Linked DNA regions of Homo sapiens: region 2 is linked to region 1. Evidence: fine-mapped expression QTL. Tissue or cell type: subcutaneous fat. Region 1 holds a variant in brackets; the other region holds the start of a gene. All regions are shown on one strand. Distances are between the middles of the regions.

Evidence for each region. PIP is the estimated chance that this variant, and not a neighbour inherited with it, causes the effect.
Region 2: it holds the start of DCK, and the variant in region 1 is fine-mapped to the expression of DCK in subcutaneous fat (GTEx, PIP above 0.99).

What each region holds. Positions count from the first base shown.
Region 1 is chr4:71,136,171-71,144,170 of GRCh38, reverse strand. It overlaps a transcript of SLC4A4 not described here. Among named protein-coding and RNA genes, the nearest start is that of SLC4A4, 47 kb to the left of the region's middle. The variant T/C (reference allele first, on the strand shown) is at 4,065.
Region 2 is chr4:70,990,442-70,998,588 of GRCh38, reverse strand. DCK (deoxycytidine kinase) reads right to left here and starts at 4,940. Exons shown (of 7, transcript NM_000788.3): 1 at 4,663-4,940; 2 at 407-522. The coding sequence starts at 4,753. RefSeq lists an enhancer at 4,515-4,694 and a silencer at 4,865-5,204.

The DNA.
Region 1 (8,000 bases):
CTAACCATATGTAGAAAGCTGAAACTGGATCCCTTTCTTACACCTTATACAAAAATTAATTCAAAATAGATTAAATACTTACATGTTAGACCTAAAACCATAAAAACCCTGGAAGAAAACCTAGGCAATACCATTCAGGACATAGGCATGGGCAAGGACTTCATGACTAAAACACCAAAAGCAATGGCAACAAAAGCCAACATTGACAAATGGGATCTAATTAAACTCAAGAGCTTCTGCACAGCAAAAGAAACTACCATCAGAGTGAACAGGCAACCTACAGAATGGGAGAAAATTTTTGCAACCCACTCATCTGACAAAGGGCTAATATCCAGAATCTACAATGAACTCAAACAAATTTACAAGAAAAAAACAAACAACACCATCAAAAAGTGGACAAAGGATATGAACAGACACTTCTCAAAAGAAGACATTTATGCAGCCAAAAGACACAGTAAAATGCTATCATCACTGGCCATCAGAGAAATGCAAATCAAAACCACAATGAGATACCATCTCACACCAGTTAGAATGGCGATCATTAAAAAGTCAGGAAACAACAGGTGCTGGAGAGGATGTGGAGAAATGGGAACACTTTTACACTGTTGATGGGACTGTAAACTAGTTCAACCATTGTGGAAGTCGGTGTGGTGATTCCTCAGGGATCTAGAATTAGAAATACCATTTGACCCAGCAATCCCATTACTGGGTATATACCCAAAGGATTATAAATCATGCTGCTATAAAGACACATGCACACGTATGTCTACTGCGGCACTATTCACAATAGCAAAGACTTGGAACCAACCCAAATGTCCAACAATGATAGACTGGATTAAGAAAATGTGGCACATATACACCATGGAATACTATGCAGCCATAAAAAATGATGAGTTCATGTCCTTTGTAGGGACATGGATGAAGCTGGAAACCATCACTCTCAGCAAACTATCACAAGGACAAAAAACCAAACACTGCATGTTCTCACTCATAGGTGGGAAATGAACAATGAAAACACATGGACACAGGAAGGGGAACATCACACACCGGGGATGGTTGCATGGTGGGGGGATGGGGGAGAGATGGCGTTAGGAGATATACCTAATGCTAAATGACGAGTTACTGGGTGCAGCACACCAACATGGCACATGTATACATATGTAACAAACCTGCAGGTTGTGCACATGTACCCTAAAACTTAAAGTATAATAATAATAATAATAAAAAGGAAAGAAAATGGAAAAACCAGGTACTTCACATAAAGTGCCAAATAGTTCTTTGGAAAGGTGGGAGGAATTTTTGGGGCCAGTTTGCGCATGCCTAGAATTGTCAGTTGGCAGGGTCATGGGCATGGGATCCAAACCAAATTAAAGCTGTAGAAAGCTAAAAAAAAAAAAAAAAAAAAAAAAGAGTGAGAAAAGTTTGTGCCTTTGGAATGGCTGGAGAGAGTTGCATTCACTCTACTATATTTTCAACTGCTAGATAGCATCTCCAAGAACAACAGAAAGATGCTGCAAAAAGCCGAAGACTCAGGTTGGTGAATTTCCTCTGACAGGAGGTAGCCTCGGCTATGTCATTACTGGATACCTGACATTGATAACATCACTCTCCTGCCTGGGTAACAGAGTGAGACCTTTCTCAAACAAACAAACAAAAAGAAAGAAAGTAAGAAATTTAAGGTAGCATCACTGAGGCACTATTTTCTCCTAAAACAGGGAGCAGCAAAAGCCATAGTTGAGTTTGAATGCCATAGATGCCTGAAGTAGCCCTATAAGGTCCCAGAAAGATTACTTTAGCCAACGCCCAAACAGAACTCTTTCTCCTCTGAAGCTGCATTGCTTCCCACTCTTTTTATATGCAGTGTTTAGTTTTAGTTTTAATATGTTTGTGTTAGTTTTAGTAAAAGAAAGCGGCTACTCATGAGGCAAACTTGCAACTAGCAAACTCATTGAGAAGCTCTGTCCTAAAGCTATACTGCTCACCGCAAAATATCTTACAAGTTTTTATGAATTAGGTCTAATTATAGAGCAGTGAGTACCTATAGTTTGTATCAGAAGTTTTCTTACTCCTCTTTGATTAAACCTGTCTCTATTATATACACACACACATACACAAAAAGTTTGAGATCAGGTCTGATGCAATTTTGTATTCCCCACTCTAATGCTTTGGATATAATAAGTTATCAGTAAGTGCTATTATATTGTAGGGCCAGCCTTTCAATTAAAAGATGGGAAAGGTTAGAAAGTAGCTACCTAAGCTAATGAAATTGTCTTCTTCCTTATTCATTCTTCTATTCTCCAAACATTGATTCAAGCCAAGCTTGAGAGCTTTGCTGATTTAATTCAATTCACTTTAGTTCTCACTTTAGTATATATCAATGAATTGATTCATCCATCCAATATTTTTTAAGCATAATATGTTCCAGGCACTGTTCTAAGTGTTGGGGAATACTAATAAGCAAGGCAAACAAGGTTCTTGACAATTTGGGACTTATTTCCATGGGGAAAACAAAATACAAACAAGTTTTTACAATATATTTATTTATGGCCATGTGGTTATGTAGACATTTCTGAAAGAGTGAAGACATTTGAGCTGAGACCCAAGTGAAGTGAGAGGGAGCAAGCCAGGCAAAGGTATGAGGGAAGGACAACCAAGAAAAGAAGCATGCCCAAGAGAAGAACATGCCCAAAAGGAGAAATACACAGCTTCTGAGATGGGAAAATCTTGAAATGTTTGAGACAGTGTAGCTGGAGCAGCATGAATGAGGGAAAGAATAGTGGAAAATGAGCCTTAAAAGATCACAGGGGCCTTGTAAACATGGCTCTGTATGTAACAGAAAGTGATGTAAGGGTTTTAAGCAAGCAGGTCACATGATCACTGTGGCTATAAGATCATACTGAAAGTGGGGCAAGAATGAAAGCTTACATTTTTCACTTATATGTGGAAGCTGAAATAATCGAACTCATAGAAGAAAAGTATGGTTACAGAGGCTGGGGAATGGGGAGGATGGGGAGATGAGAATCAAAGGGTACAAAATCTCAGACAGAAAGAATATGTTTTGTTTTTCTTTTTTGAGTTCTATTGCTCAGTATGATGAACGTAGTTAATAATAGAATATCATACATTTCACAATTGCTAAGGAAGTAAATTTCAAATATTCTCTCCACAAAAAATGCTAAGTATTTGAGGTAATGGATATGTTAACTAGCTTAATTTAATTATCCCACATTATATTCATAAATTATAACATAACTTTGTATCCCACAAATTTTGTATATAATTCTAAGTTTTCAATTTACAATTTTTAAAAACAGTGGAAGCTTAGGAGTCTTTGCAATCATCCTAGTGAGAGATGATAGGTGGTATCTTGAATGACAGGTGTAGCAGTGGAGGTGATGAGAAGTGGTCATATTTGACACACGTTTTGAAAGTAAGCCAACAGATCGTCATATGATGAGGAAGGAAATAAGAGAGGAATCAAGAATGAGTCCTAGGTTTGAGATCTGAGCAACTTAATGCAGTGTAAATGGTGCAATTTAATGAGATGAGGCAGGCTGGGGCAGTGAGTGGGGTTGGGGCAGAGCAGCTTTGGAAGGAAAAATCAAAATAATGTGTTTGTGATGCCTGTGATGAATACAACTGGAAATTCAAGGCAATTAAATATATGAGTATGGAGATTAAAAAGAGTCACCGTTGAAGATATACATTTGGAAGTCATTAGCAGAGGTTTTGTTTGTTTGTTTTGTTTTTGCAACAGGGTCTCATTTTGTCGCTCAGGCTAGAGTGCAGTGGCACAATCATGGCTCACTGCAACCTCAACTTCCTGGACTCAATCAATCCTCCCCCCTCAGCCTCCTGAGTAGCTGGGACTTCAGGTGCGCATCACCATGCCCAGCTAATTTGTTGTATTTTCTGTAGCGTCAGGGTTTCACCATGTTGCCCAGGCTGGTCTTGAACTCCTGAGCTCAAGCCATCTGCCTACCTTCGTCTCCCAAAGGTCCGGGATTACAAGCGTGAGCCACTATGCCTGGCCAGCAGAGATTTTGTTTATTCCCATTGGATGC[T/C]ATGTGTTCAAAACAACCCATTTAAAAATAGCTTCACTAGAAAATCCAAGAAAAGGGAGAAGCTGGAAAGAGAAAATTAAGCACCTTGACCATCCCAAACAGAAGCAGAGAGGATTAAGAGAGATAGTATAATGGGTACAAATATACAGTTAGATAGAAGGATTAAGTTCTAATATTAAATAGCAGAATAGGGTGACTATGATTAACAACAATGTATTGCATATTTCAAAATAGCTAGAAGAGAGAATTTGAAATATTCCCAACATATAAAAATGATAAATGCTCAAGATGGTTGATATCCTAAAAACCCTGATTTGATCATTACACATTCTATGCATGAAACAAAATATTACATGTACCCCATAAATATGTACAAATACTATGTATCAGTGAAATAAATAAATAAAATTGAAATAAGGAAAAAAGAAGCAGATTAGCAAGTGAATGGCCAGAGCAAACTATACGAATCTGGAAGAAAATGCCCACAGGTACAGAGATGGAGACATTCGCAGATGGATGTGGGCTGGGGCATGCTGAAAATCGCCAGGAACATGGGCAGGGCTTATCATCAACTGCTAGGGATGCCCACAGGGTCGGAAGTATTTCCAACATGAGCATCTTACTTTCTAGGCTTCTAAAAGTTGGAGTTTGGCCTGATAGAACCTCACCAGGGTTCTAGTGTGAAAACAGGGGTGAACAACCTCACAGTCTCCAGAAGTGGGGCAAGGCAGGTGTTGTAAATGGATGAAGAGGACCAGGAGTGGGACAGCAATAAGCAGGAAGATTGTAGAAAAGTGGAGGATTTCAGCCTCATCCACAGGAGGCGGCCAATTCACACCAAAAGTCAATGGTTGCTAAGTGGGAGTGAGGTCCAGTGCTGCCAGAAATACACACACACACACACACACACACACACACACACACACAAAGAAAAGGGAATTTAGTTTGATGACTTTGATTAATCACCATTACCCTTCCAACCGAATGATCCCTTGTGGTTAAATAGAGAAAGAAGGATCCATTATTGCATTATTGACTCACTGATTCTTTTTTTTTTTTTTTTTTTTTTTTGAGACGGAGTCTCACTCTGTCGCCCAGGCTGGAGTGCAGTGGCACGATCTCTGCTCACTGCAAGCTCCGCCTCCCGGGTTCACACCGTTCTCCCGCCTCAGCCTCCTGAGTAGCTGGGACTGCAGGCGCCCACCACCACGCCTGGCTAATTTTTTATATTTTCAGTAGAGACAGGGTTTCACCGTGTTAGGCAGAATGGTCTCAATCTCCTGACCTCGTGATCCGCCCTCCTTGGCCTCCCAAAGTGCTGGGATTACAGGCGTGAGCCACCGCGCCCGGCCAACTTACTGATTCTTTACCTGGCCCCCAACATACCCAACCAGCCTTCTTCCCTCCTGCAAAATAAAGAATTCACGTCCACTGGCAGGGAAGTGTGAATCACTGTGATAAAGGTGGAAGCATACAGTCAGTCCAGAAAAGAAATGGTGTTTGGATAATCTGTGAACCTTGAAATTAGCTTGTTCAAGAGAACTTTGTTCACTGACTGTACAGATCCTTGAAGATAATATGAACCGAGTGAGATGTAACAGTGCACGAATTTCCCTAAAAGAAGGACAGAAAGGCTTGGTGTGTCCTTGGCTGCACCTTTATTTTCCTGCTAGGCAAGTTCTTTCCCATAGGCTCTGCTTAATGTGTTGCAAGAGAGTTTACACCAACCATGATCGTCATTTGATTGGAACCTGTGCTTTATCATGTTTGCCTGGACAAGCCTTGAGAAAGAGCCTGGCCTGAAAACTAATATTAAAAAAAATTGATTAGTGAGGCAAGCAAGGAATGGATAGTATTAATATATTAATAGAGGTGATAACACTGGCCTCCACGAAGAGTTCACTTATTGACCCCTCTGACTGTGTTTTATTCAAAGTAGTGAATAAACATATCCTCCATTAATCAACTTAACTACCTGGTTTGTCATTCCAAGGGCACACTAACATATTGCATGAAATCTATCTTTTAGAGACCTGCTATGACACTGTTAAATATAGAAATGAATTTGGCAAATATAGCCATGGAGCATTCTTATTGAAAATCTAACAAGATATTTTGATTAGGGCACAATATCAACAAAAGAGAAGCCCCCAGTGCATTTTCTCTGTGTGTTAGAAACCTCTCTTATCAACCAAAGTACAGTATTGGGTTTGTTTCTTTGTGAAATTTCTTTGTGACTGAAACTTCCTATTAAAGTAGTTCTTTGTCTTTATACTTGTGAGCAAAACAAGCGAGAAACGAAAAAAACGTTTTCCTTGAGTTAACACAATGGACTTCAACCTCAGCTGCTTTATTCAGCTCCACTTCTTTTTCTGTGATGAAACCAGTGATTAGAGCTGCCCTTGGAGCTCAAGTTTCCAAGGTGGACAGGCAGCAACCACTTGAGAATTTTCTATCCTAAGATTGTTGGCTGTCCATGAAATTTGCAGAAAGCAAAGGGAAGAATGAAGTTGTGGCAGAACTAGGAACTATTAGAATGAGAGTTTGTTCAAGTAACGAGACAGTTCTAAAAGAGAGGGTGGTTAAAGGACCTTGTATCTTGAGATCAGGAATGCAGTGGTCATGTTCACTAAATATTATTTAATGAATTAATTAATGAATGGATGGAAAAGTCACTTCAGGCTAAGAATCTAAGCACCACTTTCCATGCCATAGGAGGAATGCTGGGCAGACTGATGTCTAGATAGATAAGTGATCAAGAAGTTTCTTGGATTAGCAATCAATGGAGGATGACTCTTGAGGAACTTTGGTGTGGGGACAAAAGGAAATATGACAGGGATCCAGTTATCAGAACTGGGGTGAAAGATGAGGGCTTCTATCATAACTTCAATATAGAGTCAGAGTGGAGTCAGCGGGCAGATGTCTCTCGGCTTGGAGCTAATTATTTTCTCCTTGATTACAGTGGAGTCTGGGGCAGAGCTAATCTTATCAGTAATAGAGATCTGCTCCACCTTGGAAAGTTGGTGAACAAACTGGTAAGGGAGCCAGACTGGTCATGATATTATATTCTCAAAAGTTCCTGTAGCCAGTTTTATGGCATAGAACTACCAGGACACAGAGGTACCTCTTCTTTGGTCAAGAGTAAGAGCATAGACCTTGGATTTAGGCAAAAGTTTCAGCTTCTTCATCTAACATTACCCTGGAGATAGTAATACAGCCTCTTTGTATGTAAAGCATGTAATGTGCTTAATACTGTGCCAACCTTATACTAAGTTGCACCAAAAAAAATGCTATTGCTGTTATTATTATTTCAGGGATTATAGAGGGATGCCAGACTCATCATCTCATTTAGCCCACCTAACACTCCTTGAGGTAGTACTGCTATTACCACATGTATATTAATGAGAAACTGAGAATCCAAGAGATTATGTAACTTGCTCAAAGTTACATAGTTAATGCATGGGGGAAATGCTATCTCAAATCAGTTCGTCTGACAGCAGAACCCTTACTCTTACAGTATACTGATCCTTGAAATTATAAAACCATAACTGAGTCTTGAGTCCTTTTTGGAATCTCACATGGTCCCTCCAAGATGGGTCCTCAGACAATGCTGTACATCACCACATGGGGTTAACAGGCAACCCCGCACTAACACTGACTCTTCAGTGGTCACTAAAGGGCAAAAATTAGCTCTGCTCTAAATCTGTTCCAAGTGGCAGGTGAACTTCTGGCTCTCTCTCAAGAGAACTCAAAACATACATTCCTATAGAAGATTAGTGAGAAAAGCATTCAGCTATGCATGAGGGCTCTTCTGTAACTACATCAGGCTTGAATCCAGTTCTGCTGGTCTCTGGTTTGTCAATGACATGTTGTTTAGTATTGAGTTCCCTAGCCCTAGAGCACCCAGCTAAAGGCCCTGAGATAAGATGAATGCTA
Region 2 (8,147 bases), 150 kb after region 1:
CAGGTTCCACACAGATACCAACATCCACATATACTCAAGTCCTTTATGTAAAATGGTGTAGTATCTGCATATATCCTCCCAAATAGTATAAATCATCTCTAGATTACTTATAATACTTAATACAATGTAAATGCTATATGAACAGTAATCCTTTATTATTTGTATTTTTTTGTATTATTTCTTTCTGAATATTTTCTATTCATGATTGGTTGAATCCATATCAATCTGAAACCCATTGATATGGAGAGCCAACTGTATATATATCCATGTAACCACCACCTAGATGAAGATATATACCTAAAGCGAGATTTGAAAGTTTTATTGAAAAAGAAAAAGAAAAAGAGATTAAGTACTACTGCTCCTCTAAACCAAGAGGCTTTTATCTACTTAAATTTTATTTTCATACCTCAAATTCATCTTGAGTACTTTGAACATTGCACCATCTGGCAACAGGTTCAGGAACCACTTCCCAATCTTCACACAATTGTTTAAGGATATTCACAAATGTTGACTTCCCTGCAGCTGTTGTGAGGAAAGATAAAATTGAGGAAGAAAAGTTGTCAGGAAAAAAAGATGTCAAGTAGTCATTAGCTTTTGCAAGATTTACAATAGCAAGCAACATAAAAAGCCCAAAACATTCAACTTTCTAAACTTTCTCTTCATATTTCTTTAGAAGAAAATGAAAAGGCTCCCTGCCCAATTTCATTAAGCACATTTGTTTTTTATTACGTTTAGTTTAACAATATATTATATTTAATAGTAGGGACAGTCTTGACCTAGAAGTAATACTCCTAATGGCCACCACACCCTTTATATCTGAAGTCACCAAATGTGGTTGTATTAGACATCTCTGGTTAGCATAATGTTCTCTCTCTTTCCCTGTGTGTGCGTGCACACACACACAGATGAACATATAAATAACTTCAATATACTTACAAGCAAAGCTTCCTCTTCCTTATAAATTAGATCCATGGGGAGTAGAAAGAACTTACCTTTGACTTGCAGAACTATATTTAAATCTAGGACATTAGACAGGGCAATAGAAAAGAAGAAAAACCTGGAAGAACTTTAAAGAATTACACACAGAGAAAAAACAGGAGCGAGGCAGTAAAGAAGGTGACACAGGTAGACAGTTTAGAAGAAAAACACAAAGTAAACTGTATCCAGAGGAGAGGAGAAAAACTTTTAACGATAAACTGGATAACAGTGAGATTTAATCATGGTAAAAACACTGGCCACCAAAATTTAGTATGGAGAGTGTAAGCTTAGGGACTGTACAGCATTTAGAAGAATGTTAAGTGGAAGTGAAAGCATATAGAAAGAACACCCCACATTCACTGAGCTAGATGGAAGAGGGAAAGGAGAACATGATGTTCAGAAATAGCACCCAAGGAACAAATAAAAAAATTAGGCATCCACCAGAGTCTGAAAGCACTTAAGGCTACAGCATTCAACTTTCTTCTGACACTGCTTACAAGCAGAAAAATTCATATGGTCATACTTAAAAAGTCTAAGAGTAATAACAGTTACATTTAGTTCAAGCAGAGTAATAACAGCTAGAGTTCCCAATCACACTAACACATCTAGTTCCTTAACTTATTGGGGCAAAGTGGGAGCTAGAAAATAAGCTAATTAATAAATTAATTTTCTATGAAGGCAAAGGAGAACAAGAACCAAAGACACTGATGTTAATACTTTAAAAAGTCATGGAAACTAACAGAATTCCTAATGCCAAGCAGGCATTATAATGCTGAAAGTCATTCTGAACAGACTATTAAGATGAGAAGCAGGTAAGTCCTCCATCAATCTAACATAAGGGAACATTTGAGTAACACAGAACATAAGAAGATGGGTTATATAAATATAAAACTAAAACGACCAAGTAAAGTTCAAATTCTAGGAAAAATAGAGGAATTGCAAAATAGTTTACGCACAGCTTAACAATTTGTGCATTTACAGCTTATTTGGATCTGGCAAATAAGGTGAAGGAGACATGAACAAAAGTGCAAGACCAATAATGAACAGTAACTAACAAAGTCTCAGTGTCAGGGAGACGAAAAATGGCAAGGAACATGCTCCATCTAAACACCAATTGTTGTCATACAGAAATGCAGGCCCGGTGTTAACAGATCTTCAGATTTTTCAAAAGAAGCCAAGAATCTAATTGTTTATGGGAAATCTCAAAACGTTTTCGAGTTAGCAACAAATTTAATTTTTTTTTCTTTAGACACAGGGTCTCACTCTGTAGCCCAGGCTGTAGGGCAGTGGCACAACCACAGCTCACGGCAGCCTCAAACTATAGGTCTCAAAGATCTCCACCTCAGCCTCCTGAGTAGCTAGGACTAAACGTGCATGCTAACACAACTGGCTTTTTTTTTTTTTTTGAGACTCTGTCACCCAGGCTGGGGTGCAGTGGTGCCATCTCAGCTCACTGCAACTTCTGCCTCCCACATTCAAGTGATCCTCCCACATCAGCATCAGCCGCCTGAGTAGTTGGAGCTACAGGCGTGATCCACTGTGCCTGGCCTAATTTTATTTTTATTTTTCTTAGAGACTAGTTCTCACTATGTTGCCATGCTAGTCTCAAACTCCTGGCCTCAAGCAATCCTCCTGCCTCAGCCTCCCAAAGCACTGGGATTACAAGCTTGAGCCACTGGCCAGTAAAATTTTTTTTCAACCTGTGCAGGCCAATATTGTGCAATTGCAGGCTATCAGTTCACAACTACTTTCAGTGTAGGTAAAGGCAAAATCAGTGAAGAATTTTAAGCAGGGGATAACACATGACATTTGCATACAAAAAGACCGTTGCAGAAGTAGTTAAGAGAAACTGGAGATGGGATGATATATTAGGAAATTATTTCAGCTGCTGAAAAGATTAAAGATGCTTTGAGGAAATATTTCTAAATATGATGCTACCTAACTGGATTGGAGAGAGGGAAAGGGGATGAATGTATTGTGGTATTGATCCGAGGGGTTATTCATTCAACTTTACTGTTTTGTTTCTGTGTTTTTAACAGAGTCTTGCTCTGTCACCCAGGCTAGAGTGCAGTAGTGTGATCATGGCTCACTGTGGCCTTGATCTTTGGGCTCAAGCAATCCTCCTGCCTCAGCCTCCTGAGTAGCTGGAGGCACACCAACACATGCAACTAATTTTTTAATTTTTTTGTGGAGATGAGTTCTCACTATGTTGCCCAGGCTGATCTGGAACTCCTGGACTCAAGTGATCCTCTTGCCTAAGCCTCCCCAAATCCTGGGATTACAAGTATGAGCCTCCATGCCCTGCCTCAAATTTACTTTTCAGATGGCTTTGTTCAGCCACTTTCTCCTGTCTTTATATATGGTCTTCTTTATTCAGTAAGCAGCTGTCAGAGATTCCATACTAGTAAACATGCACCCTCAAATAACTTACATTGCTAATTATATCATATGGTCTTTCTACTGGTGCTTTAATTCTGGAGCAATGAAATAAGAAGTCCTCTTTGAGAATGCAGTTTTTCTATTCATTTGAATGCTTAAAGCATCTGCTTGCCTGGCCTTTTTCAAGAAGGTACAGTGCTTTGAATGTGGTAAGAATTTTAAAAAATTTGCTGTATGCATGAATGACCAGCACCCAACCTGGAGCTAAAAAAATTTTTTTTTAAATCTATCAAAACAGGAAGTTTCAGGGGTAGGTTTCCTGTGGTTGGAGATACAGAAGAATCGGACGTTGGTGTGTATCTTGCAAAGTGACAGGCATGGCCTAGTCTGCCCCCCATCTGAGTTAACAGAAACGTTAGTGGTCTTTGAATCATAATCCAATGTTTACTTGGATGTGGAGTAAGGGGTGAGGAACTCCATGCTATTAAGATCATTAAAGACCTCTTTGCTTGTACTCGAATGTTTCGAGTTTCGTTAATAATATAGCTAAAACAATGCTTCGCTAATAATATAGCTAAAAAACTGTAAACAACCCTGAGGTCCACAACTAGAAAATGGATAAACGATGGTACATCCATGCAATGGAATACTACTCAGCAATAAAAAGAAACAAACTACAGACACAAGTAACATGAATGAATTTCAAAAGCATTATGCTAAATGAAAGACGCCAGACACAAAAGGCGATATAGCCTATGATTCCATTTATATGGCATTCTGGAAAAGGCAACACTTGCAGGGATAGAAATCAAATCAGTGGGTGCCAGGGAATAGGAAGGGTGGAGGGGGCTGAATACAAAGGAGCAGGTAGGAACTTTCTAAGGTGATGAAAATGTTCTGTATCTCGATCATGGTGATAGCAAAAGGCATAATGTTTGTCAAACCTCATAGAAGAGTACACCTAAAAAGGGTGAATTTAATGTAAGTTACACCTCAAGAAATCTAATACCCTTCCCCCGCTTCCCTTTGCGAGTTCCCAACAAAGAGGGAGCAGAGGTTCAAAGCGCGCCTCACAGAGACCGCAGGCCTGGCGCCCAGTCTGACCCCGGGGACCGCAGTCACCCCGTGGAGCGGGAGGTAAGGGAAGGATGCTCTGGGTGGGAAAGGAAGCCGAGGCCGCGTCCACACCGCCAGGCTGGAGGGAAAGCCCTCACCGAGTTGCTGCAGAGAGATGCGGCGAAGGGAAGCTTCAGCCACTGCCGCGACACCCCAGCCTTGCGTCCCACATTTCCGGAGGCTCCTTACCGATGTTCCCTTCGATGGAGATTTTCTTGATGCGGGTCCCCTCAGAGCTGGCTGAGAAAGACGGGCAGCTTCTCTTGGGCGGGGTGGCCATTCCTTAGTCTTGTGGCGGCCCAGAGCTCGTCCGGCAAAGAGGGCTGGGAGGCGGCCACGGGTGCGCGCACTGGAGCTCGCGGCGCCGCTAAGCCAGATCCTGACCTGCCGGGTCAGCTAGTGAGCTCACCGGCCCGCCGGCGGGTGTCGGGGTTTGACTTTGGCGCGCGGAGGCAGCTGAGGACACTGGCGGGCCTGCGGGGCGGCCCCGCCCTCCTCAAGCCGCGCTCCCTAGCTGCCCCTCGGCCCTCGCCCGCCTCCAGCGCGGGTTCCCGCGTGCGCGCTCCGCACGCCAGGTCACGTGAAGGCCGGGGCGGGGCCGCGCGTGTGGCGGAAGGCCTCTACCCCAAGCAGCCAGGCGCCCGGGCAGGGCGCGGGAAGAGGTTCCGGAGTCGGGTGGGGAGGAAGGGTGGACCCCAGAGGCCTGAGGGCGCTGGAGGGCAGAGGGCGTCACCTGCAGTGGGCCGTGCCAGGCTTTGGAAAACCCGCCTCTCTAGTGGGCCTGTTGGAGATGAACAGACGCGTCTGGACAGAACTGGATAGACTTAAAGCTTTGAACTCATCTGGGGAGAAGGCACTGTGTGGTAGGAAAATCAAATGGATTTACTCTGGCTTCTCAGCCTAGAGGAAGACTATCAGGCGAAGTGCCGTCCTTGGGAATCGCACTGCCCACTTAGAGAGCCAGGCTGTTTTCTTCTATGTGCTTTTCATTAATTAACGAAGTCTAGTGCCAGAAATACCGTCATTAGCCCATTTACCTGCCAGTGGGAAAACAGGCACTGAGAGGCTGCTTGTTCCAAGTGTCAAAGTCAGTAAGTGAAACTGGGATGGGAATTTAGGTAGTCAGATGCCACCCACAGGAGGCCTTTCCAGATCTCCCATACCGCTTTCCATTTGATTTGGATGCACGACCATGCTGTATAGAAGTTAGCACGTTGGGTAGGTAGGTTTCTGTTCAGCTGTTAACTCAGCCTGCCCGACACCTGGCACATAGGTAACAAAATGTACTGTATGTTGAATTTTTGAATGCCTACTCATGTGCCATGTACTCTGCTAGAATACTCATCTAGATGGGACAAATGCAGTGTAGGATTTGTCCCAGCTAGATGAGTGCATTTTTAGTCAGGGTAAAGACCTAATGAGGCAAGAGAATAGGGAATTAGGGTAACCAAGGGTTAAGGCATAAGCAAAAGAACAGCAGGTGCAGCAATTTCTAGGCAAGACTAGGCAGCATACAGGCCACACCTTCACTCCTGTGATTACAAGACAGAAGTTTCCACATCGCCTCTGATTGTCCTCGGCCATCTCCATTTCAGCCTCTGATTGGTCGCAGGCCAATCCTTCATAGGGTGCAACCAATTGGACGACTGTAAAGGGCACCTAGGGATTTACCAAATTCTTTTAGCCTAGTAACCCTTAAGAACACTGCAATTGGGACTCTTGAAGCACTTGGTTCGCTTCAATAAATTTGTGCTTTTGTTACTTCGTTCTTTTGTTGTTTTGTCTTTCGTTGCTTCTTTTGTTGCTTTGTTTCTACGTTTTGTTCAATTCTTTGTTCAACACGCCAAAAACCCAGACAACTCAGTCAAGACTTCCCATCCAGTAACACTAATAAACCGGATATTACCCAGTCTGGAAGTTATCTGGTCCAAATTGTCTACAGAAACCAAAGGCCTTGCTATTCTTTTTTACATTGCAACTATCATCAGACCTGAAATGCATCTAAATGTGTAGCCAGAAGGGGAAAACGGTGACTCCATCCTCAGAAATAAAGAGCAGAAATTAAAATGTGAATCCTCGGGGATCACATTTTCCAGGATTAAACAGCAAGAATCATTCTATGTAACTGCCCTATATTATTCTGTTATGCAATTATTTTGTATATATTACTTTTACTTATCCCTATAGTGATTAATAGCAAGATCCTAGGAATATAAGAGGCCTGAAGAGTTGTCATCAGGTATAGCAAGGAAGTTGGGAGAAAGGTGCTGCGGAAGCTAATAGGTATCACATTTCACAGCCAAGCTTGGGGGAAAACTCATGAAATGGTAAGAGTACTGGCAGCTACCGAGAGGAGGAAGGCAAGTCTCTTGAGACCTTCAACAGGAAAGCAGAGCTGGTCCTGGATGGATGTCATAAAGAGGCTTGGGGTTAAGGAGTAGAAATCTCCAAGTGTGGTTTCCACAAAAAAGACCCACACAAGAAGTATCTTACAATGATGAAGAGTTTAAGCACTGGAAAATGAAAGATTTCAAACACCAGTTCTACCAGTTTCTGGCTGCAAAAACTTGAATTCATCTGAGCTTAAGAGTATACTTTGAAAAATACAAATGTGGGAGGCCGAGGCAGGTGAATCGCTTGAGCCCAGGAGTTTGAGACTAGCCTGGGCAACATGGCAAAACTCTTGTCTCTACAAAAAATAGAAAAATTAGCCAGGCGCCTGTAGTCCCAACTATTTGGGAGGCTGAGGTGGGAGAATTACCGAAGCCAGGGAGTCAAGGCTGCAGTGAGCCAAGATCATGCCACTGTACTCCAGTGAGATCCTGTCTCAACTAACAACAACAAAGTAAATGGGGGAAGCAAAGAATCTAGCTTTTTTGGCATTAAGTCCAGCATAATTTCCCATTTTCCTACATGACCTGGGGGTAACACAAGGAGAGAACAGAGAAAAGCACTTTTCAAAACATCTTGATTTTTGGTCCACAATCTCTTATCTAAAACCCTGGCAGCCAGATGTTTCAGAATTTAAAACTTTTAGAAAAGATTTTTAGAAAAGAAATTCTAAACTTTGGAACTGGCTGGACGCAGTGGCTCTTGCCTATAATCCCAGCACTTTGGGAGGTACTCTGGAATGCTTGAGCTCAGGAATTCGAGACCAACCAGGGAAACATGGCGAAACTAATAGAAAAAATACAAAAATTAGCTGGTTGTGGTGGCACACACCTGTGGTCCCAGCTACTCAGGAGGCTGAGGTGGGAGGATGGTTTGGGCCTGCAAAGTTTTAGCTTTAGTAAGCTATGATCGCGCCACTGCATGCCAGCCTGAGTGACACAGCAGCAAGACCCCGTCTCAATAATAAAATTTGGAATCGAAACTTTAGAAACGATACAGTGCATATACTGTATATTAATTATTAAGTAAGCACCCCCACTCCCCCTGCAGAGGTGTTAAATCAAATGCACTAATATTTTGCAGTGAAACAAAGAGTGTTAACATGAAGTGGGATAAAGACTATTAACATCTGGTCAGAATAAGTTTGCACTGAATTCAAAAAAAATACCTTTGGGGCCAAGCACGGTGGCTCACGCCTGTAATCCCAACACTGTGGGAGGCCGAGATGGACAGATTACCTGAGTTCAGGAGTTCGAGACCAACCTGGCCAACATGGCGAAACC